Linked DNA regions of Homo sapiens: regions 1, 2, 3, 4, 5 and 6 are each linked to region 7. Evidence: fine-mapped expression QTL. A gene starts in region 7. Each other region holds a variant in brackets. All regions are shown on one strand. Distances are between the middles of the regions. Region 1 overlaps HSD17B11 (hydroxysteroid 17-beta dehydrogenase 11). Region 2 holds the start of MIR5705 (microRNA 5705). Region 3 overlaps HSD17B11 (hydroxysteroid 17-beta dehydrogenase 11). Region 4 overlaps NUDT9 (nudix hydrolase 9). Region 5 overlaps HSD17B11 (hydroxysteroid 17-beta dehydrogenase 11). Region 6 overlaps HSD17B11 (hydroxysteroid 17-beta dehydrogenase 11). Region 7 holds the start of HSD17B11 (hydroxysteroid 17-beta dehydrogenase 11).

Region 1 (4,080 bases), 49 kb before region 7:
CTAGAAAGTTATTGTATCTCTCAAAGCCCAGGCCACACTCCAAACCAAGTCAATCAGAATTTGGGGGAGTTGGTCTCAGGCAGCAGCATTTTTTAAACTTCCCAGGTGAATTCCAGTGTGCACCAAAGTTGAGAGCTACTGCTCCAAAGAAATGCTTCTCAAATTTTAATATGCGTACAAATCATCTAGGAGAACTTATTGAAATGCAAATTCTGACTCAAGAGATCAGGAGAGTCTGTATTTCTAACAAACTCCCAGGTAATGTGTGTAGTCCAAGAACCACATTGGAAGAAGCAAGACTCAAGGATTTCTAAAATTATAAAAAAAAATTTAGCAATTCATATACTTCAGTATGATTTTGCACAAAACAAAAGCTCAATGATTATCTGTTGTATCTTTAAATAAATACCTAAAACCTAACTCTGGTCTCCTTTAATATCATTGTTCTATGATTCCATTATGTAAAGATGCTTAAAAACTATCCTTCTTCAGAGTCATTCATTTATAAGACAAGACTTGCAGAAATATACAAATTTCTTTCTTTACAAAAAGTAAAAATGTGTGGAAATTACTCGGTTCATTTACCCAAGAGCTGTATCAATCTTGCCTCAATGTTATTGAGCCTGTTATTTTTATTAAGTCAATTCCATTTAACTGTACTTTATCAACTGCCTGATTTAAATGTCAGTAAAAAATGCAATAGATAATTGTTATTTTACCTTTCATTTCTAAGGTTTCTTAACTGTCACTTACCTTTCCAATGTTGTTAAAAAAGCTATAGAAGATGGAATAAAAATCATCTTCTGCTCAGTCAGAATCCCATGCATCAGCCTGTTTACCACTTCCTCAGGTTCCAGAGTGGGTCCCAAACTGAAATCAGAGTCAGTCTTCAGAAACAAAATACTTCACCGAGGCTTCAGCTTTAGTTTGGTGCTAACCAACAGCTTTAGTATGGTACAGACACCATAACATAACTGATTTGTAGTGTCTAGCCTAGTATAGGTGCTCAGAAATGGTAGCTACTTTACCATTGATAATAATAATAACAATCATTCACTTAGTGCTTATCGTGTACCACACACTGTGCTAAACCTTCTACATAGGTTATTCCATTGACGTTTGACAATAACTTTATGAAGGCAATATTATAATTCCTATTCCACAAATAAGAATTATAGAAGTAACTAAGATTCAAATATAATTGAGCTAGATTAGGTCTGACAACTTTACTTTTAAACTTTAAGCAGTCTCGGGAAAAAAATCAGATACTATTATACAAGTTTTATTATATACTCAGTCTCCTTAGTGAACAATTCCTAAAGCATCAGAGGAATTAGAATATGACAGGTACGTGCCCACCTTTAGGCCCTTCATCTCCACATGATATGCTTATATTTATTAGGTCTTTGGTTTTTTTGGTTGTTGTTGTTTTTTTTGGTTTGTTTGTTTTTTTGAGGCAGGGTCTCACTCTGTCACCCAGGCTGGAGTGCAGTGGTGAGATCTTGGCTCACTGCAACCTCCACCTACTGGGTTCAAGCGATTTTCCTGCCTTGGCCCCTCAAGTAGCTGGGACTACAGATGTACGCCACCACTCCAGGCTATTTTTTGTATTTTTAGTAGAGATAGGGTTTCACCATATTGCCCAGGCTGGTCTTGAACTCCTGGACTCAAGTGATCCGCCAGCCTCGGCCTCCCAAAGTGCCGGGATTGCAGGCAGGAGCCACTGCAATTAGGTTTTGGCTTTGTTACTTAGTTCCATGTTACATCTTTGTTGTGTAATCACTCAAGTATA[T/C]GTACCACAGACTAGCAGGTGGCCCCCAAAAAGTGGGTTTTAGGCTGGGTGTGACGGTTCAGGCCTGTATCCCCGTAATCCCAGCACTTTGGGAGGCTGAGGCGGGTGGAGCGCTTGAGCCCAGGACTTCGAGATCAGCCTAGCCATCATGGCAAAATCCTGTCTCTACAAAGAAATACAAAAGAAAATTAGGCAAGAGTGGTGGTGCACTCTTGTAGTGCTAGCTACTCAGGAGGCTGAGGCTAGAGGATCCTTTGAGCCTGGGAGGCTGAGGCTGCAGTGGGTCATGACTGTTCCACTGCATTCCAGCCTGGACAACAGAGCTAGACCCTGTCTCTAAATAAATAAATAGATAGATAAGTGGCTTAAAAAAATCAGTTACAGAAGTGCAATTAGAGAGGAGCTGCACAAGAGTTAGTACTGAGACTTTTTAACATTTTATTAATGACTTAGAAAAAATGATACATAATTAAATGTACTCATGAAATTTGCCATGCCACTAAACTATTTGGGTGGCTAACATTTTGGGGAGGCTTATTTTTAATGTGTGTGTCTAGTTAAAAGAAGTGAGACACCAGGCGTGGTGCTCAATGCCTGTAATCCCAGGACTTTGGGAGGCCGAGGCAAGCAGATCACTTGAGGTCAGGAGTCTGAGACCAGCCTGGCCAACATGATGAAACCCCATCTCTACTAAAAATACAAAATTAGCCAGGCATGATGGCAGGCACCTGTAATTCCAGCTACTCGAGAGGCTGAGGCAGGAGAATCACTAGAACCCAGGAGGCAGAGATTGTAGTGACCCAAGATCGTGCCACTGCACCCCAGCCTGGGCAACAAAGTGAAACTTCGCTGCAAAAAAAAAAAAAAAAAAGAAGTGAGGCAAAAAGTACTGGATGTGCCAGGCAGAGTGACTCACGCCTGTAATCTTAGCAATTTGGGAGGGTTAGGCGGGAGGATCACTTGAGCCCAGGAGTTGGAAACCAGCCTAGGCAAGATGGTGAGATCTCGTCTCAAAAAAACAAAAACAAAAACAAAACTGGATGAAATTCTTTAGAAATAAATAAAGAATAATTCATTCAGAAAAAAAATATATTTTGAAGTAAAACTGGGACAATTGAGAAGTATAATATTGTATTTAAAAGTGAGCATGATTATTGGATCCATGAAGGAGAGTAGAGCTTAAAAATATATAAGCTTTAATTCTCAGCACAGTTCATTCATTTATTAGAATATTGTGTTCACCATGGGACCTTGAAGCAATAGTATTACATATGAAAATCTTGGAGATTTGATAGGAGAGGAAATGTAATAATGAAATCGATGGCTTTTGGCCTAATGGAAGCAAAAAATCAAAGGCAACGGAAGCTTGCAGCATAAACAGGCAGGGGTATCAAGGAGGATGAATCCAGAAACTGAAGGATGCTATGCCTTGAAAAGCATTTAGAGGGAAATTCATTTTGTAGCACATTGCTACCAGACTTCAATATTCTCAAGCTCAATGAAAGCTTATAGACACCTGTGTAAATAGAGCACTCTCTCATCCACACTGTGGCCTTGCTAACCTACCTATCAAGCGGTGCTGCATTCACCAAACTTTTCTAGTGTACCCGATTTCTTTACCTAAGGTTTTTAGCCCCTGTCAGATAACTTCTTATTGAAATACAATGACTGTTCAATATCATAATTTTAAAAGCCAAAAGAAAAGGCTTTCAGAAAAAACTCAATTTCTTAGCAAAATAGTATCTTAATCATTAAAATGTCAGTATGTGGAAACATTTTTTTTCCCAATACGCTAAAGTTAACGAGAGTTACAAATCCCATTAAACAAATGTTCTTAATGGATTTTGTAGAAACTATCCAAAAACACTTCAAGCCAATCTGCTGGGGTGGGAAAGGAGGGTGCATGTTGGGGTAGAGAAATACTGAGGGGGAAGGAGTATTTTCGTCTGAAGGATTGTATTTGATGACCTACTTTAACCACTTAAGTAATGAGTAATTTTGGGGAAAACATTTCAACTCTTTTTTTTTTTTTTTTTTGAGACAGAGTCTCGCTCTGTCGCCCAGGCTGGAGTGCAGTGGCACGATCTCAGCTCACTGCAACCTCCGTCTCCCAGGCTCAAGCAATTCTCCTGCTTCAGCCTCCCAAGTAGCTGGGATTACAGGCATGTGCCACCACGCCTGGCTAATTTTTGTATTTTTAGTAGAGACGGGGTTTCACCATGTTAGCCAGGCTGGTCTCGAACTCCTGATCTCAGGTAATCTGCCTGTCTTGGCCTCCCAAAGTGCTG
Region 2 (4,080 bases), 89 kb before region 7:
TGAATTACCTAGGAGTTTTTAAAAAATGCAGATTCTGATTTTGTAAGTTTGAGATGGGTTGCAACAGTTTGTATTTCCAACATGCCTCTCATGCGGCAGCCATGCTGCAAGGGCATGTTTAAACTTCCCCATTTACACAGGCCATGAGCCCCGAAACACCCATCAGCAATCCTGGGATGGGTGTTTCGGGGCTCATGGCCTGTGTAAATGGGGAACTTTAATGTTAGATGTTCATTCCATCTTTGGAAACATTATTATATAGATCATATAAGATTTAGATTAGAAACTAACCAAGCATTTTCTCTTCAACCATACATTTACTCTGCTACTCCTTTAAGCTTTGCATACAGTTGAAGATTGGCTGTACCTATACCACCCTCAGATCTGAGCAAGTGAGGGCCTTACCCCAGTCCTGTGCCTCATAGAGCCTTATTCTTTGGAGTGCCCTCTATGAAATTTTCCAAGTCCTCTTCGGATGCCTGCTCTGTTTTTTCTCTCTGGGGTACTCTCCCTTTCTCTCCCTGTGTATAAGGTTGACCAGATATCCTGGGGAGCTCTGCAACTTGTAACTATAGGATCATCCTGGGGTCTTGTTTCCAGGCTTTCGTTTCAGGAGGGTGGCCTGGAGAGCAGACTGCTACTTCTGGTTGGCAAAGAATTTCTTTTGCAGGATTACATGAAATTTGGCTGCCAGAATGATGCTGACATGCTGATTTTGGATAATTCTCACTCACATTGGGCATAGATCTAATTTAGGGTTGTAAGCTATCTAAGGTCCACTGCCCAAGCCGCATGTGTTGACCCATGCATCCACTCGCAGTTTGTTCTGAGTATGATGCCACTTCTGCTATATAACATCCAAGGGCTGCAGGGTGACATCAGATGTCCTTACCCCGCTTGCCAATGGCATTCAGGAAAATCATCCTATCCCCTCTGCAGGTTCTATGCCATGGGTCAGGCAGTCCTTTTGGCTGGGGGTTGGGGGGTGGCTGCACTTATCTCTTCTGAGGGCTTTTAAGACTATTGCTTCTTCACAACAGTGGGCCTTTCTGACTGATGTGATGATGCTGTGTTCTCTTCTCCCTGGTCAATGTTAAGCTCTCCTAGAGGAGGGACAGACATTCCTTGTGCAAATGGGGCTGTTCATTTTGTTCTGTCCACAATCCCCTCTCTGCTGCTGGTGGTGTGTGGGAGGTAGGGTACGGTCAGGAGTGGCAGAGATCAATTCTAGAAATGTAATGATGATGGCCTAAAAAGTTCAAGACAAGACACAGTTGAAAGATGTGTTGTTCTATGTGATGCTATAACATTCTAAATGATAAATTTAAAATGAGCAATAAACAACGAATCATTCATGTTTTCTCGTATATATACCCTGGGTAAGACTTGAATTTGTGATTATCATCAAACATTGTACCAGTAACAATTGTACTATATTGAACTGTGTTGTACCAGTAACAATCTTTGAGTGATTGTCTCTGAGTGATACCCAGTATTCATGGGTAGCACAATGGATGATGCAATGTCAAAAGGCATAATGTAGCTAAGATTAAATAAATGGTAGCAGGGTATTGGAAAGGGGTGAAGATTCATATTATTTTATTACAAACATATTACAAAGAGCCATGGCATTATGAATAATAACAGCATTGCTACCCTTTCTTGTGGTAAAAGATATGAAATTAGCTAGGAATGGCTCATTTGATAAAAAAGAAATGATTCCTGGACCAAAGAGATAGTACCAGGATGCCGAGAAGAATCTTTACATGTACTGCTCGGACAATAAATACACAAATCTTCCTATTATTCTAAATCTTTATCAAAAAATCACTATACTGCATGCACATGGACCTATAAATTTTATAAAGCATTTTTAATAAAAGTGTTTATATAGATAGAAGCCCTGCAAAAAAATATTTGTCTGGTGATCTGCACATCCTAGCAGTAG[C/T]CCTTGGAACTGGGATTTTGGTGAAAGAGAGGGCTCTTAGAGAGAATTATAGATGAAGATTGTCATAGGAAAACATTTGGAAGCTCAGGTGGAGCTTTTTATTTTTTTGAGACGGAGTCTCACTCTGTTGCCCAGGCTGGAGTGCGGTGGCGTGATCTTAGCTCACTGCAACCTCCGCCTCCCAGGTTCAAGTGATTCTCCTGCCTCAGCCTCCTGAGTAGCTGGGATTACAGGCATGTACCACCATGCCCAGCTAAATTTTGTATATTTAGTAGAGACAGGGTTTCGCCTTGTTGGCCAGGCTGGTCTCGAACCCCTGACCTCAGGTGATCTGCCCCCCTTGGCCTCCCAAAGTGCTAGGATTACAAGCATGAGTCACCACGCCTGGCTGCAGGTGGAACTTTTAAGGAGGAGGACTACACTCAAAATAAGCAAGAAAAATGGACAAAGAGAGATGAATATTTTGCTCGCACATTTCTCTGAGCTTCATTCATAAAAGATTAAAACCAAAATGGAATTAAAATAAGAAGTTTTCTGCTCTGAACTTAACACTGGAATTTAAGAGGTTTCTATTTTTGTCAATATGTATATCATAAAATATTTTTTAGTTGCCTGTGTATGGTAATAGTTCGTCCGCAAAATGTTCTTTCTCAGCGTGCTCTTCCCTGACTCTACTACTTTAAATGCTCTCTCTCATATTTGCAGTCCCTTTATTGTTTGTCCCACCTACTAGAATGTGAGCTCTGTTAAGACAAGGAGTTTGCCTTATTCATATATGTTTCCCTGGGCCTAGAACTTTGAGGGCACTCAGTATTTGTTAAATTAATATTTAAATAGATGAACTAAGAAATACTGGAAACATCCTAAGTGCCTATCAAAAGGGAATGGTTAGAGTACCATTTTAGTACTGTGTACTCATGAAAAAAAGTTGAATTCTCTATACTGAAACAAACAGCTGTTTGTGATAAGTTGGTAAGCTAAAAGAGCAAGTTACAGAACATAATGTATGGTATGAAACTACTGATACGACCCATGCAATAAGAATATAATGTATTTGTCATGAACATGCATCAGTAAAAGACTGGAAGATTGTGCATTGACAGTGTGACCTCTGGGAAATGGGATTGCTGGGGGTAAGCTTCTATTTTTTACTTTCCATGTTTCTCTTTTGAATTTTTGTAACCATACTTTAAAAATAATACATTTTACTCATAAATTTCTTGATTATAAGGCAAGAAATTAAAAGAATGTTATGAAAAAAATTATTGCCGGTGACTAAGAAAAAAAATTAGAAACAATAGCACTGTGCTTAATCTCACACATAGAAAGGGGTCAGTAAGTTCCAGTTGATAAACCAGCACTCCTGCTGTCAAAGAAACCAGAGTTGAGAAAACCCCTGGATTCATTTAATAACTGCCAGATGTAGCTGTTACCATCCACATCCTTGGTTCTTGAAGGACACTCATAGAGACAGAGTTTAGAAGTCAAACGTTTTATTTTATAACTACAAGAGGTTATTTTTTTAAAGCACAATGACATATTTATTTTTAGTGAATTGTTTTTGTGACTTTTAAAAAAATCATTTGTTTTTAATAAAAACAAGAGGATAGTCCATGCAAAAGCATTCTATAATACATGTGAAAAACACACAAAACAAGATTAGTCTTGATGTAGTGGGAGTCGGATTATTTTTTCTATTAAAAAAAAAAAGGCTGGGCACGGTGGCTCACACCCGTAATCCCAGCACTTTGGGAGGCCGAGGCAGGTGGATCACGAGGTCAGGAGATCGAGACCATCTTGGCTAACATGGTGAAACCCCGTCTCTACAAAAAATACAAAAAATTAGCCGGGTGTGGTGGCGGGCGCCTGTAGTCCCAGCTACTCAGGAGGCTGAGGCAGGAGAATGGCGTGAACCCGGGAGGTGGAGCTTGCAGTGAGCTGAGATCATACCACTGCACTCCAGCCTGGGCGAAAGAGTGAGACTCCATCTCAAAAAAACAAAAAACAAAACAAAACAAAACAAAAACCAAAAAACCTTTCTTTCTTCCTTTTCTTCTCTTGGGTCCATTGTTTCTTATGTAATAGCCAGTACAGTTCCTTTTCCTGTGTTAGCTTTAATTTTTGAGCCTAAA
Region 3 (4,080 bases), 32 kb before region 7:
TGCATATTTAAGCCTGTGAATCATTACTCAGGAGAAGAAAAAAGGAAGAGTTAGCAAGTTTACCAATGTCATTCATATTTACTTTTTTAGTCACGCTCCCTTGCTTTCTCTCTTTTTGGCTTTCCACCTGTTTTCCCACAATCTGCAGAAACTGAAATCAAAATGAACTAAGAGCTTTAACTATCAGGTGTTTTCAGGATTAAAACATTTAGGAAAACCCACAGAATGGCTGGTATTCATAGCAACCACCAATCCTTTTGTCTCAATTTCTCAACTTACCTTGTACTTGGATTTTTGATGAAGCCAGTGTTTACGAAATTAGGACACAGACATGTTGTTTTGACTCCAGTTATTTGTAAGGCAGCCAGTTCATCTGTCAAAGTTTTATGAAATCCAACAGCAGCAAACTTGCTTGAACTGAAAATAGAGAGTTTACAAAATAATTCAAGAATTCTGAAATGTCTGCCTGTTTTCCTCAGTTCAGCATGGTCCTCTGCAGAGCAATGTGGGCATTCCCTGAGTCTCAGGCCCCAGCCCAGAGCTACTGCATCAGAGCCCACATCTTACAAGATTCTCAGGTAAATCTGTAGGCACATTAAGGTCCAAGAAGCCCTGACATAGAAGATTTACTGCATCTTAGCATCACTTACGGAATAAGAACATTTCCTTAAAAAGCCTTTTAAAGAAAATTAGTAGAGTATTTGTTTTTGTTGTTGTTCCACAAAATTCAGTGTCACTATAAGCTGTTCCTTATTTACTTTAAGATGTCCATAGAATTTGCTGAAAACTTTTCCTGGATAAATCCTATTCTTCCTTTAAGTCACAGCTTCACTTCCTCAAAGAGGCCTTTCCTAACCCCCAGTCTAAATTATTTTCTCATTATATAGTAATTTTCAGTTTTCTATGATAGTATCTATCTCAGATTTGTAACTGAACATTCATTAGAGAAATTTTTTTTTTTTTTTTTTTTTTTTTTTTTTGAGACAGAGTCTTGCTCTGTCACCCAGGCTGGAGTGCGGTGGTGCGATCTCGGCTCACTGCAAGCTCCGCCTCCCGGGTTCCCGCCATTCTCCTGCCTCAGCCTCCGCAGTAGCTGGGACTACAGGCGCCCGCCACCATGCTCGGCTAATTTTTTGTATTTTTAGTAGAGACGGGTTTTCACCATGTTAGCCAGGATGGTCTCGATTTCCTGACCTCGTGATCTGCCCACCTCGGCCTCCCAAAGTGCTGGCATTACAGGCGTGAGCCACCACGCCCAGCTGAGATTAAATTTTTTAAAACATCTGTTTCCCACACCTTTCCTATAAGCTCCATGACTGTTTTGGTCACCAGTGAATCTCCAGGGCCCAGCACAGTGCTTGGCTCTTAGGTGCTCAATGAATATTTGTCAAATGAATGAATCACAATGCAAAGCGTTTATTTTAACAGCTCTTTCATTTGGAAGTAGTAGTGAAATTACTTATTCTAAATGGACATTACTTTCTCAGGTTTTTTTAATTTAAAAAGGGCTTTATTGAGATATAAATTCATATGTCACACAAAGCATTCACTTAATGTACACAATTAAATGGTTTTTGATATATAATTAACTTAAAAGTTGTGGTATAATATATATCATGTAAAACATGTCATTTTAACCATTTTTAAGTGTGCAATTCAGTGGCAATAATTATCAGATAATCTTTTATTCTGTTAAATCTGTATGAATTAGCAATTACACAAAGTAGCTATACATTCTGGCCAGTTAATCTATGCTTTGGAAGACAGAAAGCTGTGGAAATTTTT[T/A]AAAAAATTTTAAAAAAAATTTCTTACCTTTTTAAAAAAAGTTTAGGCACTTATTGAAGCTGATATGGTTTGGCTGTGTCCCCACCCAAATCTCATCAACAATTGTAATCCGAATTGTAATCCCCACATGTTGAGGGAGGGCACTGGTGGGAGGTGACTGGATCGTGGGGGCAGTTTTCCCCATGCTGTTCTCGTGATAGTGGGGGAGTTCTCACAAGATCTGATGGTTTTTTAGGTGTTTGGCAGTTCGTCTCTTGCTCTTACTCTCTCTCGCTGTCTCTCTCCTGCTGCCATTTAAGACATGCCTGCTTCCCCTTCCTCTGTAATTGTAAGTTTCCTGAGGCCTCCCCAGCCACGCAGAACTGTGAGTCAATTGAACCTCTTTCCTTTATAAATTGGCCAGTCTTGGGCAGTTATTTATAGCAGGGTGAGAGGGGACTAATACAGAAGGCTTAAAAGAAAGATTGTTAGATTAAATTATATGAGATTAAAAGCTTCTGTATACTGAAAAACAACATAAATAAAAATCAGATCTAAAATAGATTACTAAGTGCTAGACATTGCCCTCAGTTATTCTGATGCATTTTGGAGTTTTTTGGGGAGTCTTTATCTGTCACTTAGGCTGGAGTGCAGTGATGCAATCATAGCTCACTTCAACCTAGGAACTTCTGTGCTCAAGCAATCCTATCACCTCAGCCTCCCAAGTAGCTGGGACTACAGGCATGTGCCACAACACTTGAATAATTATTTTACTTTATTGTAGAGATGTGGGTCTCGCTACGTTGCATAGGCTGGTTTCAAACTCCTGGGGTTAAGTCATACTTTTGCCTCAGTCTCTCACGGCGCTGGGATTATAAGTGTGAGCCACAGTACCTGGCCTATTCTAAATAATTATTTTGTTTAATCTTCATAATACCCCTATAAAATATATTAAGATCCTCATTTACCAAAGAGGAAACTGAGGTAAAGATGGGTTATCAAACTTGCCTGAAGATACAAAACAAAGTGGCAGAATCAGGTTTTACGTGTGGGTAGTAAACCAGGTTTATATATGATATATTCTAAACTTTATTAACTCCAAGCAAATTAAGAGGCAAGTGACAAACTGGTAAAGCATTTGCAACATATAAGACAAGGATAAGGTTAATATATGGCAACTTTTATAAAGGAATAAGACAATACTCTAATAGATAAATGGCTAAAGGGCATTCATGGAAAAATCATAATATAAAAATGCCAGTAGATGTAGGCATATAAAAATGATTTACTTTAGGAATAATTCATATAAAAGCAAAGTAAAACAAGACGGAATTCTTGCCTAGCAGTAATTATAAGGACAGAAATTTTCATCTGAGTTTTTTTCAATGTACAGATATTTCACCTCATATAATTGAATCTAGCAATCTTTTCTTTTTAAGGCTTCATTCAATATATGTCAAACTTTCAAAAAAGTGACAAAAAACACTTTCTTTCCACAGCTTTCTATTTTCCAAAGCACAGGTTAACTGGTAGCCTTTTCTGGAAGGCAGTTTGGCAAAAGGTATCAAATTCATTAAAAGTATGCCACGCTCTCAGATCCGGTGTTTATCCCAAGGTAATAATCAATGATGTCTCCAAAGATTAATGTTCAAGGATAGTCCCTGGAGTGCAGTTCATTAAAGCAAATAGTTGGGAATAATGTGAAATGTCTGTAGTGGACAGCTGTTGTTTTTTCCCATCAGCATTTGTGTCCCCTTGTTCTGGTAATACCGCTGTCACCAAATGCATACAGTGATTGGCTCCAGGCTAGTCTAGTCACTGACCTCTAGAACAAGAACGTTTGAAGCCACTGTTGAAGTGATGTTTTTTTTCCCTTCCTGCTGGACTTGGAATTTAAAGGGTTTAACCCTGGAACTTCTGGTAGATATCTGGCCATCAGAGGAAGACAGCCTGCTTGAGACTTTAATCACAGAGCCAAAAAATTCCTCTTTGGGCCTGGGGCAGTTTAAGTTTTTTGTTCCTTGCAACTGAAAGAGTGACAAAATACCAATGATAATGAGTAAATTGAATAACTAGTGGCACGTATGTGCAGTGGTATCCCACGCAGAAATAGAAAACGATGTTGCACATAATATTTATTAACATATATTATTTTAAATTAAGAGCCAAAATTATATATTTTTTCAATGCATAACTATATGTTTGCATTTAAAATATCCTTAAAAATTATAACATGCATATCATGATTATTTTGTCAGAGGCATGTAAACCACAGCAACTCCATCTTAAATAGGAGCTGGGTAAAATAAGGCTGAA
Region 4 (4,080 bases), 47 kb after region 7:
TCTTACATGGTTACCTTTTTTGTGTGTGTAGTGAGAAGAGTTGAGATCCACTCTCAGCGAGTTTCAAGTATACAATACTGTATTATTACTATTTTTGAGACTGGTGCTCTCTCTCTCTGTCACCCAGGCTGGAGTACAGTGATGTGATCACAGCTTGCTCCAACCTTGAACTCCTGGGCTCAGGTGATTCTCCTGCCTCAGCCACCTGAGTAGCTAGGACTATGGGCATGTTCCACCATACTTGGCTAATTTTATTTTATTTTTAAGTAGAGATGGGGTCTCACTGTATTGTCCAGGCTGGACAAGAACAGTATTATTAACTGTAGTCACCACACTGTGCATTAGATCTCTAGAACTTACTCATTTTGCATAACTGAAACTTTGTACCCTTTGACCATCATCTCCCCATTTTTCCCATCCCTTTATGTTCCTTTTCTAACCCAGGGTGGAGTGCAGTGGTGTGATCATAGCTCACTGCAGCCTTGATCTCCTGGGCTCAAGTGATCCTCCCACTTCAGCCTCCTGAGCAGGTGGGACTACAGGTGTGTGCCACCATGCCTGGCTAACTTTTAAATTTTTAGCAGAGAAGAGTTCTCACTGTATCATCCAGTCTGGTCTCGAACTCCTGAGCTCAGGTGATCCTTCTGCCTTGGCCTCTCAAAGTGCTGGGATTACAGGCATGAGCCGGCACGCCTGGTGATTTTTTTAAAAGGGTGAATCTCTAGAGTCCCAAGGGCATTGCAGCTCTGGTTTTATAATTTCATGGTTTTTATCATTTAATTCTTTTTATTTGCATGTTAGATGGCAGATTGGCTAGAAGTCTTAAGAAAATGTATGGATCATTGAAATTGGAAATTATTCCCAAACAGACCACAGATATTTCTTTGCTCACTCAATGGAATTAAAGCAAGAAAAAAGTGAAACCTGTTTCAGAACTGCCCATGAACTATCCAGTGCTATGTAACTCTTTATTCACTGTCAGTGCAATTATGGCAGGGATTTTATAGTGGTGAGGAGAGTAGTTTAGTTATGTCTGTTTAAAAATGTTTTTGTTGGGCCAGGCACAGTGGCTCACGCCTGTAATCCCAGCACTTTGGGAGGCCGAGGCAGGCGGATCACTTGAGGTCAGGAGTTTGAGACCAGCTTGGCAAACATGATGAAACCCTGTGTATACCAAAAATATAAAAAATTAGCTGGGTATAGTGGCATGTTCCTGTAGTCCCAGCTACTCAGCAGGCTGAGGCAGGAGAGTCGCTTGAATCTGGGTGTTAGAGGTTGCAGTGAACCAAGATAATGCTACAGCATTCCAGCCTGGGTGACAGAACGAGACTCCATCTCAAAAAAAAAAAAAAAAAAAGAAAGAAAGAAAAAATAATTTTTTTTGTGGCATGATACAAATATAGTAAAGTGCACATTTCTTTATTTTTATTTTATTTATTTATTTTTCGAGATGGAGTCTCGCTCTGTCGCCCAGGCTGGAGTGCAGTGGCGCCATCTCGGCTCACTGGAAGCTCCACCTCCTGGGTTCACGCCATTC[T/A]CCTGCCTCAGCCTCCCGAGTAGCTGGGGCTACAGGTGCCCACCACCATGCCCAGCTAATTTTTTGTATTTTTTTAGTAGAGATGGGGTTCCACCATGTTAGCCAGGATGGTCTTGATCTCCTGACCTTGTGATCTGCCCACCTTGGCCTCCCAAAGTGCTGGGATTACAGGCGTGAGCCACCATGCCTGGCTGTAAAGTGCACATTTCTTACATGTGAAGGTGTGCAGCTCAGCAAAATTTTACATTTACATAGCTCTGTAAACCACTGCCCAGATCAAGATCTAGAACATTTCCAGCATAGTATGTCTGTTTTTAATTTACATCATATTTATTATGCAGCTTGTGGGGCAAATTCACTGCTTTGTGGGTTTACTCTGATAAGAATATTAATCAGTGTGCATTTGAAGAAATTTAAATTATTTTGAAATAGTAGAAACATCATCAGAAGGAATCTTATTTTTGGAATTACATGGGAGCAAATAGTTTTCATATTGTGCCCACAAACAATTCCTTCTTGCTAATAGACCTTCTTGTAGCATGAGGTAGGAGCTCTAGCTCTTCTGCTGGTAGTCCTTCCTGGAGGGGTTAGTAAGTTTAATAATAATATATATCTTTGTAATGTGTGGTGTTTTGGTTAAAACTTTTTTTTGCCTTAAAAATTGTTTTGAAGGAATAAGATGGATTTGTGAAAAAAAAAAAAAAACTAACCCTTAAAAATTTATTGTTTCAGGAATACTTCTTATGGATAACAGATTGACTTTCATTATTAAGCTGTTGGTAGTTTTGAATCATTATTTCTTATTTTACATTGGTATTCTCATTACAGTGAAAGTAATTTTTCTCCCAAGTTTAACGAAAAGGATGGGCATGTTGAGAGAAAGAGCAAGAATGGCCTGTATGAGATTGAAAATGGAAGACCGAGGTAGGTACTGGGAGCAGAGCATCTTACAATAATGAGTCACCAAAAAGTAGAAAAGATAGTTCATATTTATCAAATCCTTGTATGTGCCAGATGTTGTACAAATTTATTTACATATGTGATGTAATTAAATCTGCACAATAACCCTGTTGGTGGATATTTTTAATTGAATTTTACAGATAAGGGAAGAGAGTGTAAGCAATTTGTATACAGCTAGTAAGTGGCAGAGGCAGCGTTTGAATGCATCTTTTTGTAATTGTATCTTGGAAACAGAAATAATTGAATACATTAACAGAAAGAAAAATTGTTCAGCAGATATTTATTAAATGGTATAGTATCTTAAAGTAAGAATTTATCCAAACATGTAAGAGTAAAAATAAAGATAACCCAATAATTCGGGTCTTTCTATACTTTTTAAAAAATGATTTTCCTATACAACTCAAAAATTATCCATTTTCCTTAAGATATTATAAAAGTGTATCAGCCTGTTCTCACAGTGCTATACAGACATACCTGGCCGGGCGCAGTGGCTCACGCCTGTAATCCCAGCACTTTGGGAGGCTGAGGTGGGCGGATCCCCTAAGGTCAGGAGTTTAAGACCAGCCTGACCAACATGGAGAAACCCCATCTTTACTAAAGATAAAAAATTTAGCCAGGCGTGGTGGCGGGCACCTGTAATCCCAGCTACTCGGGAGGCTGAGGGAGGAGAATTGCTTGAACCGGGAGGCGGAGGTTGCGGTGGGCTGAGATTGCGCCACTGCACTCCAGCCTGGGCGACAGAGCGAGACTCCATCTCAAAAAAAAAAATAGACATACCCAAGACTGGGTAATGTATAAGGGAAAGAAGTTTAATTAACTTACAGTTCTGCATGGCTGGGGAGGCCTCAGGAAACCTACTGTCATGGTGGAAGGCAAGAGAGAAGCAAAGGTACATCTTACATGGCAACAGGTGACAGAGAGTGAATAAGTAAAGGGGGAAGAGCCCCTTATAAAACCATCAGATTGGCCAGGCACAGTGGCTCACACCTGTAATCCCAGCACTTTGGGAGGCCAAGGCGGGTGGATCACCTGAGATCAGGAGTTGAAGACCAGCCTGGCCAATATGGCAGAACCCTGTCTCTACTAAAAATACAAAAATTAGCTGGGCTTGGTGGCGGGTACCTGTAATTCCAGCTACTCGGGAGGCTGAGGCAGGAGAATCGCTTGAACCCAGGAGGCGGAGGTTGGAGTGAGCCAGGATTGTGCCGCTGCACTCCAGCCTGGGCAACAGAGTGAGACTCCATCTCAAAAAAACAAACAACAAAAAAACCATCAGCTCTCATGAGAACTCACTCACTATCATGAGAACAGCATGGAGAAACCGTCCCCCATGATCCAGTCACCTCCCACCAGGTTCTGCCCTCAATTTTCGAGAATTAAAATTTGAGGTGAGATTTGGGTGGAGTCACAGAGCCAAATCATATTAAAAAGTTAGAAAGAAGTGTAAAAATTAGCATGTACCAAATAAAACCAAAGAAGGATCACAGATTTGAAATCATGGTTATCATCTTATAAAAATGTTACACTTTGTATTCTTGGTTCCTGTAAGACAAGGAAATGGTAGTACTCCTCTCATCTCAACC
Region 5 (4,080 bases), 37 kb before region 7:
TTGCTAGATTGGGGAAGTTCTCCTGGATAATATCCTGCAGAGTGTTTTCCAACTTGGTTCCATTCTCCACATCACTTTCAGGTACACCAATCAGACGTAGATTTGGTCTTTTCACATAGTCCCATATTTCTTGGAGGCTTTGCTCATTTCTTTTTATTCTTTTTTCTCTAAACTTCCCTTCTCGCTTCATTTCATTCATTTCATCTTCCATTGCTGATACCCTTTCTTCCAGTTGATCGCATCGGCTCCTGAGGCTTCTGCATTCTTCACGTAGTTCTCGAGCCTTGGTTTTCAGCTCCATCAGCTCCTTTAAGCACTTCTCTGTATTGGTTATTCTAGTTATACATTCTTCTAAATTTTTTTCAAAGTTTTCAACTTCTTTGCCTTTGGTTTGAATGTCCTCCCGTAGCTCAGAGTAATTTGATCGTCTGAAGCCTTCTTCTCTCAGCTCGTCAAAATCATTCTCCATCCAGCTTTGTTCTGTTGCTGGTGAGGAACTGCGTTCCTTTGGAGGAGGAGAGGCGCTCTGCGTTTTAGAGTTTCCAGTTTTTCTGTTCTGTTTTTCCCCCATCTTTGTGGTTTTATCTACTTTTGGTCTTTGATGATGGTGATGTACAGATGGGTTTTCGGTGTAGATGTCCTTTCTGGTTGTTAGTTTTCCTTCTAACAGACAGGACCCTCAGCTGCAGGTCTGTTGGAATACCCTGCCGTGTGAGGTGTCAGTGTGCCCCTGCTGGGGGGTGCCTCCCAGTTAGGCTGCTCGGGGGTCAGGAGTCAGGGACCCACTTGAGGAGGCAGTCTGCCCGTTCTCAGATCTCCAGCTGCGTGCTGGGAGAACCACTGCTCTCTTCAAAGCTGTCAGACAGGGACACTTAAGTCTGCAGAGGTTACTGCTGTCTTTTTGTTTGTCTGTGCCCTGCCCCCAGAGGTGGAGCCTACAGAGGCAGGCAGGCCTCCTTGAGCTGTGGTGGGCTCCACCCAGTTCGAGCTTCCCGGCTGCTTTGTTTACCTAAGCAAGCCTGGGCAATGGCGGGCGCCCCTCCCCCAGCCTCGTTGCCGCCTTGCAGTTTGATCTCAGACTGCTGTGCTAGCAATCAGCGAGATTCCGTGGGCGTAGGACCCTCCGAGCCAGGTGTGGGATATAGTCTCGTGGTGCGCCGTTTCTTAAGCCGGTCTGAAAAGCGCAATATTCGGGTGGGAGTGACCCGATTTTCCAGGTGCGTCCGTCACCCCTTTCTTTGACTCGGAAAGGGAACTCCCTGACCCCTTGCGCTTCCCAGGTGAGGCAATGCCTCGCCCTGCTTCGGCTCGCGCACGGTGCGCACACACACTGGCCTGCGCCCACTGTCTGGCACTCCCTAGTGAGATGAACCCGGTACCTCAGATGGAAATGCAGAAATCACCGTCTTCTGCGTCGCTCACGCTGGGAGCTGTAGACCGGAGCTGTTCCTATTCGGCCATCTTGGCTCCTCCCTCTAGTATTCTGGATTTTTAACAGCAAATCAGCAATAAGCATCCTCGGGCACACATATTTTCACTTTTGGATAATTATCTCCCTCAGGTAGATTCATAAAGGGGGATTACTGGGCCAAAGGGTATATAACTTGTAATTTAATTTCTCTAAACCTCAGATCTCTCTCATCTACTGAAGAGGGACTAATAACATCTCCCCAAAAGTATTGTTGTGAGGTTTAAGAAAATGACATTTTATTTGGTGTCTGAAATGTAAACAGGTATTTAACGAGGAACATGTTCTCTCTTCTAATTAGAAGTAATAAGTTTCTATATTAAAACCAACTTCATCTTTGGGGTCTACTTTAGTACCAGCTTAGCCTCAAAGAGGTTCATATGTCAGGACCAATCTTTAGGCCCTTCCTTAGCCAGGTTTATATTCAGCCTAGAATCATCTTAGCCTCTTTTCACACTTTTCCTCCAGAGTGCAAATCAGTGCAGCATTTCTGGAGAGGAGTTTGGCAATATGTAGGAATTAATGGCACTAGTAAGTTTTGTCAGGAGAGGGCGCTGGAGCCCACGTTAAGGTCAGCTCTGTGCGGCCTTGTAGGGGGGGCAAGGTTAAAAAATTCAATTATAACTTTTGAAAATAGGATGTCTGTTTTTAACTACTGAAAGACAGTATGACTTTAAAACTTGACTCAAATATGTTATTTTAGTATCCACATACTGAAAAAGAAATTGAGGAAACTGGCAAGTTTTATCTTCAACATCTGCTTTCAGTTTTAGTGAAGCTTATCCTCACTACTTTCATTCCTCAGATC[C/T]ATTTCCCAACCTGAAAAACATATCTGTCCCTTCTCTTCTCTCTTCAGACTCCAATTAGGGTTCTCTTGTTTAATACTGATAAATTTAAACATTGACCTCTAAAATATACACTCTTACTTTTGTTTTCTAACAAAAATTGTGTATTAAAAATAGATTTTAAAGACTGTTTGATAGATTCTTGGGGGCTTGAGATCTTTGGACAGCTCCCAAATTTCTGTCTAACGTTGGCTTTCTGTTCTGCTTCCCTGTGGGATGACTTAAATTAAGTGTGTTTAAAATAGAACCTGGCGGCCGTGGATCAGCTGTCAAGAGTTCGAGACCAGCCTGACCAATATGATGAAACTCCGTCTCCACTAAAAAAATAATAATAATAATAAAATAGAACTGTTAGGCCAGGCATGGTGACTCATGCCTGTAATCCCAGCACTTTGAGAGGCTGAAGTTGGGAGAATGACTTGAGCCCAGGAGTTCAATTGAGTTCAAGGAGCCCTTGAGCCCAGCCTGTGCAACATAGGGAGACCCTGTCTCTACAAAAAATTTAGAAATTAGCCAGGTGTGGGGACACATGCCTGTATGGTCCCAGGGACTGGGGAGGCTGATGTGGGAGAATAGGTTGAGCCCAGGAGGTCAAGGCTGCAGCGAGCTGTGATTGTGCCACTGCATCCAGCCTGGGTGACAGAGCGAATCCTTGTCTCAAAAAAAATAAAAAAAATAAAAAAAGGAAAAAAATTAGAATCTTCAATTTTACCTTCAAATTAACCCTTCAAGTGGCCACACTGAATATTTTTCATTAATTTTAAATACATTTTCAACAAAGGCAGCTGAATTGGGGGAAATATGGGGAAGTTTGAGGGGGCAGAATAAAACTTAAAAATTGAATCTTGGCTGGATGCAATGACTCATGCTTATAATCTTGGCACTTTGGGAGGTGAGGTGGAGGTGGGAGAATTGCTCAAGGCCAATTTGAGACCAGCCTGGGCAAACAGCAAAATCCTGGCTCTCAAAAAAAAAAAAAAAAAAAAAAATTAGCTGGGCATGATGGCACACACACTGTAGTCCTACTCAGGAGGCTGAGGTGGAGGGTTGCTTGAGCCCAGTTCAAGGTTACAGTGAGCCATGATCACACCACTGCACTTCAGCCTAAATGAGACCCTGTCTGAAAAACAAAACAAAACCAAGCAAAATTGAATCTCATCATTACAATAAAATTGAGAATCCAAAAGTCTATCCAAGTAAGCATGTGAACTTATAATATGAATTTAATATCAGTGAGGAAAATGATGTATTATTTAATAAATAGTGCAGAAAACTCATTAACTATTTGGAAAAAACTATACTGTGACCTTACTTCTTAAATCAAAATAAATTTGGGTGGGGCAATGATTTAAATATGAAAAATGCAACCATAAAATATATGCTAGAAAAAATATGGGTAAATATTTTCAAAAACTTGGAATGAGAAAGACCTTTCTAAACACCTCACAGAACCTAAAGTCCATGAGAAAAAAATCCCTAAGAAAATTTTAATGTAAAACTAAATGAAAATAGGCTTAAAAGCAAACAAAAAACAACTGGGGAAAAAAAAAACATATGCAACAGATGTGATATATAAAGGGGTTTCTCAAATGTATGAAGAATTGTTTCTTATGTATTAATTAAAAATCTCTAGAGCTCAGCTGGGCATGGTGGCTCATGCCTGTAATCCCAGCACTTTGGGAGGCCAAGGTGGGCGGATCACTTGAGGCCTGGAGTTTGAGAACAGCCTGGCCAACGTGGCGAAACCCCATCTCTATTAAAAATACG
Region 6 (4,080 bases), 23 kb before region 7:
ATATTAGCTAAAGTTAAAGGGGTATTATTCAGTTTTTCCATAAATTAAACATTGGAATAAAAGCACAACAGGTTTCTCTTAGAGGACTTATCTGCGCTTTCACAAAAAAATGTAAAGGGTTATAAAGGTTTATAAAATCTTACCTTAGGATTAAACATTAAAATTGGGTAAATATGTCTCTAAGGTTTTATTAAAAATTGGGTTTAACATTAATAATACATTAATGTAAAGGTGAAATTTCGCTTATTTGGTATAAAAATCATCCAGGAAGCATTCTCAAATGTGAAACAGTGTTTTGCTTTCTTTGGACTATATTTGTATAAATATGTTATTGGTATATGTTCCAAAGTTATAAGAAACTCCTTTATTTCTAATATGACTTAGTGTATGTTACTAATAATTATAATTGTTATGTAAAATTTTGTATGCCACAAAAGTAACCAAATTTCCTTATCAATTGTGGCTTTAATAGTGGCTGTCCTAAAGTTTTTATCATCCACAGACAGTTGTTGTCTTGTTTTAATCTTCTTTAAAAGGTGGTTTATAATCAACTATAGAATTCTAGCAGATGTTCTTAAATGCAGGTTGCTAATAACTTTAGAAATTGTAACATTAAAATAAAGAAAACAACTTTCGAAACTCTCATAAAAAGCTGGAATGTTCATGAATAACAAGTAGAACAGGAGTTAACTGAATTAACTGAACCAATAGAAAACTGAAGTAATTTTTTTTAACTTTGCTTAAAATATTGCTGATCTTTTATTTTTCAAAGGAAACTTCTTTTAAGCTATTTACAGCTTGCAGCAATTAAGTAAAATATACTCCTATGAACAAAATTTGAAACATATTTGTTTCTCTCTACCTGATTTCTCCGGAATGGAAACCAATTGTAAGTATTCTTAACTTATGGCAATATAGTTGTTTGTATAAGTGCAACAAAAATCTGTTTTCTTTTGTAATGGGACACTATTGGAGAAATTGGTTATTTTACCAAGGCTTTGACTGGAATGGTGTGCTTTCCTTTAAAGAATCAAACTTGACTTGTAAAGCCAATAAAAGCCCTATGGGAAACTGGCCTCATACTTTGCCTACACAGTCCCTGTACAGGGTTTCTGACCTATGGTAAGTAAAGAATGTCACTTTCTTACAGGTCCAGGAGGCCCAAGTTAACTTGGGACCTCAAAAGAAAAGTGTTTTACCCAACTCATAGGTATTTAAGGGTACAAACCCATGGCAGGGCTTAGCTTTAAAAAAGTCTTACCTGAGATTCCTTATAAAACAGAGTTCCATCAAAGCCAATTAAAAAGCCTGTGTGAAAAATAATTATTCTCGCTGCACTTTATACAAATAATCAGACCAAGTATAATAAAGCAAATCAGTCTTACCATAATGTGTCTTTAATAAAAATGGGAAACTGGAGAGAGAATATTATATTTCAAGAACTATAGTATACTTGTTATTAAATTCTAGTCTCAGTTGTTTTTAAGTTTGTTTCTGCAATTTAGGCTAACCCTGTTTATTCCTGTAAACCAACCAGGGATCTCTAACTGCTGCTCAGAAGAAACAAGAGGGATGGGTAATGTAAAATTCTAGGCACATTGCAATCAGCTAGCAACCCCATATCAGCTTGGTCTCAACAGTTGCCCAGTTCATGGAAAGCCTTCTAATTTAGTTTACTTGGAATAACTTTACTTACTTTGCTTTACTCTTATGGAATATATTGCTGTTATACCCTTTGTGTGGGAACACAGGACAGGCTTACTAAATGTTTTCTTAAACTAAATACTTATTAATCTCCCAGATATCACCTCTTGTCAAAACTCAAGAGTCGGCTAGGCACGGTGGCTCATGCCTGTAATCCCAGCACTTTGGGGGGCCGAGGCGGGTGGATCACAAGGTCAGGAGATCAAGACCATCCTGGCTAACATGGTGAAATCCCGTCTCTACTAAAAATACAAAAAATTAGCCGGGTGTGGTGGCGGGCACCTGTAGTCCCAGCTACTCAGGAGGCTGAGGCAGGAGAATGGCATGAACCCGGGAGGCAGAGTTTGCAGCGAGCTGAGATCGCACCACTGCACTCCAGCCTGGGTGACAGAGCGAGACTCCATCTCAAAAAAACAAAAAACACACACACAAAAAACTCAAGAGTCATGAATGGCCCTCGCCACACTGATGCTTTCTGACTAAGCTCCTCTCTACCCTGAACACAAGAGACCCTAACAGTTAGGCAGGAATATCATGGCCCCATTCAGCCTGAAGAAGTTACAAAAGATGGATTTTCATCCGTCTGCAACTCTTAGGATTAAGAGTTCTCTTATAAAAGGGAAGGGGGAAATGTCAAGAGGCATGTGAAACA[G/A]AACAACTCCATCTTGAATAGGAGCTGGGTAAAATGAGGCTGAAACCTACCGGACTGCATTCCCAGACTGTTAACGCATTCTAAGTCACAGGATGAGATAGGAGGTCAGCACAAAATACAGGTCATAAAGACCTCGCTGATGATAAAACAGGTTACAGTAAAGGAGATGGCCAAAACCCATTAAAACCAAAATGGCCACGAGAGTGACCTCTGGTCGTCCTCACTGCTACACTCCCACCAGCGCATGACAGTTTACAAATGCCATGGCAATGGCAGGAAGTTACCCTACATGGTCTAAAAAGGGGAGGCATGAATAACAAACTGCTTGTTTAGCAGATCATCAAGAAATAACCATAAAAATGGGCAACCAGCAGCCCTTAGGGCTGCTCTGTCTATGGAGTAGCCATTCTTTTATTCCTTTACTTTCTTAATAAACTTGCTTTCACTTTGCACTGTGGACTCACCCTGAATTCTTTCTTGCACGAGATCCAAGAACCCTCTCTTGAGGTCTGGATCGGGACTCCTTTCCATTAACATTTCTGCATGGTGAAGCTATCCATAAATTTAGTTTTTTCTTTTACTAAACCTTATTTTCTGATTTTACTTAAGTGACCAAAAATGCAAGAATATATTGAAAGTCAGAGTTAATGATCTTGAGTGTGTAAAAGGAATAACATATTTTTCAACTTTATGGTGAACCTATATATAGAAAGGCATATATATATATGAAAGCTAAAAGTGAGTAGATTTTTGCCCCCTGCACTTTGTAACATTACATCAAATTCCTTCTTATTAGAAATAGTCTAAATTATTCAGATGTCTTGGAGGGCTGAAAAAAATAGTCTGAATTAGTACTTCTTATTCCAAATTCTTTTTTTTTTTTTCTTTTTGTGTTGAGGTCTGTCTTTGTTGCCCAGGCTGGAGTGCAGTGGTGAAATCATGGCTCACTGCTGCCTTCAATTCCTGGGCTCAAGCAATCCTCCCACCTCAGCCTCCTGCGTAGCTGGGACTACAAGCACGCACCACCACACTTAGCTAATTTAAAATATTTTTTGTAGAGATGAGATCTTGCTATGTTACCCAAGCTATTCTTGAACTCCTGAGCTCAAGTGATCCTCCTGCCTTGGCCTCCCAAAGCCTGGGGGATTACAGGTGTCAGCCACCATGCCTGGCCCCAGATTTTTCTTTTAAATAACATTTTGTTACAAGCTAATGTTCAGAACTCAGTTTTACTGAGCGTTCCCATACTGGCAACTTTTCATGCTTATAAATTGGCTATTTGGGTTGACAGAATATATTAGCTAGCTAATTGTTTTCTTTTAAAAATCAAAATACTTGTGAACAAATTACTTAGCAAGCAGCAAAAAACATTTTAGAATAGAATCAAAAGCTTCACCTTCCACCATAAATCCAGTTCTTTTATCTTGCATTCTTCATATTAATCATTAAAACTGTTGAACTAAAACTCTGAAAAGAAATTAAAATTTTTTTCCTAAGATAGGCTACTAGAGCTAGAATAAATTATTTTCTGTGGCTGTAGTAACTCAGGACAATGATAGATGAGGGCTGAATTACAGGGAAAAGGATCAATACTCTTATTTTTCCTCTCATTTCATCCCAAAAACTAGGCGTCAGAGCATATATGATGAATTCCACTGGGGCAAAGCATTCTGGAAGCTAAAATTAGAGGTGGGAACTCCCTGTTTTGTGTGAATAACAGGAAG
Region 7 (4,000 bases):
TGTTATTTTATCCATTTTGCAGAAAAGGAACTAAAGCTGTGGAAACGTTGAGTAAGTTACCCAATCAGAAAACGAAAGCTCAGATGTGTCTGACTATATCACCATGCCAGACCTTGACCATGCTGGTCCAGGCTGGACCTGGGTTGTATTTTTCATTGCTCTTGTAATTACTTTTTTATTTATTAATTTAATTTAATTAATTTATTTATTTTTAAGACAGAGTTTTGCTCTTGTTGCCCAAGCTGGAATGCAATGGCATGATCTCGGCTCACTGCAACCTCTGCCTCCCAGGTTCAAGCAGTTCTCCTGCCTCAGCCTCATGAGTAGCTGGGATTACAAGTACACGCCACCACGCTCAACTAATTTTTTGTATTTTTGGTAGAAATGGGGTTTCACCATGTTAGCCAGGCTGGTCTTGAACTCCTGACCTCAGGTCATCTGCCCGCCTCGGCCTCCAAAAGTGCTGGGATTACAAGTGTGAGCCACCGCATCCAGCCTGCACTTGTAATTACTTAATGTCCATTTTCCCTACTAGACTGAGGTCATGGAACCTTATTTTCTGTTTGTCACCCTATCCCTAATGTCTAAGCAGCAGACAGTCATTATTTGTTGATTGCTGTCTTCATCAGCCACTCACTGGGTTAACCCTCATTTAACTTCACATCCTTTGAATTATTGTTTACAGCATTGCATGTCAACTAGTGTGTAATGGATAATGTTTCAGGCCATCAGGTATCTTCTAGAAACCCCTTTGTTCATCTACCAAAGGTCAAATAAAAGGTTGGATTCTAGGTCCTCTTCTCCTCCCTAAGCCACACCTACACTTGTCCTAGGTAAAAAATTACACTGAAAGTTTTTTTCCCTTTTATTGTTTTTACTAAAAGATGCTTTCCCGCCACTCCTTCAGTATCACAGGTCAAACGTGGTAAAAAATGTTTTTTAAAAAAATTTGAGACAGGGTCTCACTCTGTCACCCAGGCTGGAGTGCAGTGGGGCGTTTACAGCTCACTGCAGTCTCCACCTCCCAGGCTCAAGCAACCCCCCACCTCAGCCTCCCGGAAAAGATGCTTTTTAAAATTACTCTTGGCAATAACTATGGCAATGTAGCATTGGTTTCTGTTGAGTATAATCTTTTTGTTTGTTTTTTGAGACGGAGTCTAGCTCTGTCGCCCAGGCTGAAGTGCAGTGGCGCCATCTTGGCTCACTGCAACCTCCGCCCCGCGGGGTTCCCGCCATTCTCCTGCCTCAGCCTCCCCAATAGCTGGGACTACAGACGCCCGCCACCACGCCCGGCTAATTTTTTTTTGGTATTTTTAGTAGAGACGGGGTTTCAGTGTGTTAGGATGGTCTCGATCTCCTGACCTCGCGATCCGCCTGCCTTGGACTCCCAAAGTGCTGGGATTACAGGCGTGAGCCAACGGCGAGTATAATCTTTCAAACCACTTTTCTCATTAACAGTAAGTAGGACTTTCTCTTAATAGGTACAAGCTTCTTACTCTTTTAATATATAGCTAAAACGATTGTTTTTTCCCTATTTTTAAAATAGAGGGATCAATGAAATCAGGTTCAGGAAAAAATTATGAGTTATCCTTAGGGCAAAAATGGGGATCAATTTACAAATGGGGCAGTAACTGGGACTATTATAACCTCTAGGTCTGTTTATCATGTGATCATACAACATATTAATTCATGCCCTCCCATCTGCAAAATGGCAATACTAATTTTTTTTTCCTCCCTGCTTTGCAGAGATGAGGTAAAGGGTGGTTGCCAGCAAAATGCAGACACATCCACAAATTAAAGGTACCAGAAAGTAAAACATAGTAAACACTGTTACCTTATTTATATCCCAGAGAACCAGCTTGCTTTTAAGTTTAGCAAATTCATAGGCAGTCAGTCTCCCAATTCCATGCCCAGCTCCTGTAATCAGCACGATTTCGCCGGTGACTGATTTTCTCCTCTTAGGAATAAAAAGCTTCACGAAGGACTCTAGGGAGCAGACGATCAGTAACGGGAGAAGCAGGAGGATGTCCAGAAGAAATTTCATCCCTTTTGTGGCTGCGAGCGTTTGGTGTGTTTTTTTTTTTTTTTACCACTCTAAACTGCTTTTAGAGGGTAGCTCGATCTAACACCAGAAAGAGTAGGGGCGAGAGCAAGGAGGAACTCCCGTATCAAAGAAAAACAACTCCGAAACCGTTCCTTCCGCTGGGCTGGGCTTTGTTGGTCTTTCGCAATTGGCTCGGGCTGCAGTGCTTGCTAGCTCAGAGATCTGGGAGGGACGAAGTCCAGACCGGAGCAAAGCTTCCTAGTTCTGCTTTGCGCAGCCCCCACGCGGTGTGTGGCCGCGATTGTCTTTTACACCACTTTCTCCCGGTGTCGTGAGCCGGCCTTGGAGGGTTAGTTGCTCACTTGTTTTCCTAAATTGGATAAGTTCCAAGGATAACCGACAGTGTCCACAGGCCAGATGCTTCTTTCATAGTTGAAGGTTGCTTATCACTAGATAGGGGGTGCCGCTGGGCGCGGCGGCTCTCGCCTGTGATCCTGGCACTTTGAGAAGCCCTGGCGGGAGGATCGCTTGACCCCAGGAGTTCGAGATCAGCCTGAACAACATAGGGAGACCCCCGGTCTCTTTTTTTTTTTTTTTAATTAGCCAGGCGTAGTGGCGTGTGCCTGTAGTTCCAGCTACTCGAGAGACTGAGGCACGGGAATTGCTTGAGTCCAGGAGGTGGAGGCTACAGTGAGTGAAGATCGCGCCACTGCACTCCAGCCTGGACGAAAAGGCCAGACTTTGTCCTAAAAAACAAAAACTAGATAGAGGATGCAAATGTAGATTCCTATCTTAAAGGATCCTGAAAAGACCAATCGTTCTGCTTCCAGCTGAGAAATTGCGCTACATCACATTTTAGTTTGAACTAAGCACGATTTCTGGAAGACAGGGGAAATTTTGTCTGTTCAAGGACAGCTTCAATCAAGCGCCAGAAAAAATTGTTATCGTATTAAAGGGATTGTTTCCACAAGAAAGAAGAGTATATTTGAATAATCATTTTTCACTTGACCTATTAGAGTTTGAAAATAAAAAATATATGTTGTACTTTAGGAATTTTATCTTTATTCAAGTGAATAAATAGCAAATCATTTAGCCTAAAGATTACCTATGTAACATTTGGTTTTGTAGCCTATATAAATGGGTATTCAGTATATGCTAACTAGTGACTTGAAAAAATTCTAGAGATTGGTTACTGGAAGAAAAGACCTAACTAGGGCTTGTGTCCAGTAAGAGCTTAATAATGGTATTGCATGCATTTTTTTCCAACTCATTTTTGACAGACATTGGATTTGGGTTTTGCGCAAGACACTCCAGTGCTTGGGAAGGGACTTTGTTGTGTGACAATAGTCAACTTTCATATTTAAGAGCCAGAAAGATCACACAAAAAAATCAAAGTTCACAAATAGTTCAAACTCGATTGTCCCTCTTACTTAAGCAGCCATACGTTGTTATAGGGGATGAAGGGATAGTGGCAGCCTCACAAAAGTGAACCCCATTATAGAATTCTTTGAATTCAGAATATCTACAACTTTTTTTTGGATAGCCTCCAAATCCAAATTTACAAAACACTTGTATAGAAAGTTTACAAAGTGTTCTTCCACATATATTATTTCATTTGATTTTCAAAAGCCTCCTAGGAAATAGAGAAAAGTAGAGTCAGGATATATTTATACCTATACTGTAAATGAATAAATCTGTTAGATCAACTTTAAAATCTACACAGTGAGTAAAAGTGTAACTGGGGCTACACATATGTTCAGTGTTTGTCAATTTTTTGGTCCAACACCTACAGGAATAAATTACATCTGACATGGTGATCTACTATAAGAAGTGTTTCAACTATGTTGAGTTTCATATATTGAGGCTCTAGCTATGCTATTTTTTTTTTTTTTAAAGGAGTCTCCCTCTGTCTCCAGGCTGGAGTGCAGTGGCGAAATCTTGGCTCACAGCAACCTC

Evidence for each region. PIP is the estimated chance that this variant, and not a neighbour inherited with it, causes the effect.
Region 1: its variant is fine-mapped to the expression of HSD17B11 in whole blood (TOPMed, PIP above 0.99). The same link has a PIP of 0.9 or more in subcutaneous fat.
Region 2: its variant is fine-mapped to the expression of HSD17B11 in whole blood (INTERVAL, PIP above 0.99).
Region 3: its variant is fine-mapped to the expression of HSD17B11 in whole blood (INTERVAL, PIP above 0.99).
Region 4: its variant is fine-mapped to the expression of HSD17B11 in whole blood (INTERVAL, PIP above 0.99).
Region 5: its variant is fine-mapped to the expression of HSD17B11 in adrenal gland (GTEx, PIP above 0.99).
Region 6: its variant is fine-mapped to the expression of HSD17B11 in whole blood (TOPMed, PIP above 0.99).

What each region holds. Positions count from the first base shown.
Region 1 is chr4:87,339,737-87,343,816 of GRCh38, forward strand. HSD17B11 (hydroxysteroid 17-beta dehydrogenase 11) reads right to left here. Exons shown (of 7, transcript NM_016245.5): 6 at 754-870. Among named protein-coding and RNA genes, the nearest start is that of HSD17B13, 19 kb to the left of the region's middle. The variant T/C (reference allele first, on the strand shown) is at 1,793.
Region 2 is chr4:87,300,370-87,304,449 of GRCh38, forward strand. HSD17B13 (hydroxysteroid 17-beta dehydrogenase 13) reads right to left here. Exons shown (of 7, transcript NM_178135.5): 7 at 3,425-4,080. MIR5705 (microRNA 5705) reads right to left here and starts at 214; the gene lies at 126-214. The variant C/T (reference allele first, on the strand shown) is at 1,949.
Region 3 is chr4:87,357,000-87,361,079 of GRCh38, forward strand. HSD17B11 (hydroxysteroid 17-beta dehydrogenase 11) reads right to left here. Exons shown (of 7, transcript NM_016245.5): 5 at 280-417. Among named protein-coding and RNA genes, the nearest start is that of HSD17B11, 32 kb to the right of the region's middle. The variant T/A (reference allele first, on the strand shown) is at 1,786.
Region 4 is chr4:87,435,912-87,439,991 of GRCh38, forward strand. It overlaps NUDT9 (nudix hydrolase 9), which reads left to right. Exons shown (of 8, transcript NM_024047.5): 3 at 2,366-2,461. Among named protein-coding and RNA genes, the nearest start is that of NUDT9, 15 kb to the left of the region's middle. The variant T/A (reference allele first, on the strand shown) is at 1,538.
Region 5 is chr4:87,351,671-87,355,750 of GRCh38, forward strand. All of the region lies in intron 5 of HSD17B11 (hydroxysteroid 17-beta dehydrogenase 11), which reads right to left. Among named protein-coding and RNA genes, the nearest start is that of HSD17B13, 31 kb to the left of the region's middle. The variant C/T (reference allele first, on the strand shown) is at 2,277.
Region 6 is chr4:87,366,206-87,370,285 of GRCh38, forward strand. The region is part of intron 4 of HSD17B11 (hydroxysteroid 17-beta dehydrogenase 11); the gene reads right to left. Among named protein-coding and RNA genes, the nearest start is that of HSD17B11, 23 kb to the right of the region's middle. The variant G/A (reference allele first, on the strand shown) is at 2,357.
Region 7 is chr4:87,389,027-87,393,026 of GRCh38, forward strand. HSD17B11 (hydroxysteroid 17-beta dehydrogenase 11) reads right to left here and starts at 2,162. Exons shown (of 7, transcript NM_016245.5): 1 at 1,835-2,162. The coding sequence starts at 2,044. RefSeq lists enhancers at 2,374-2,443, 2,457-3,029.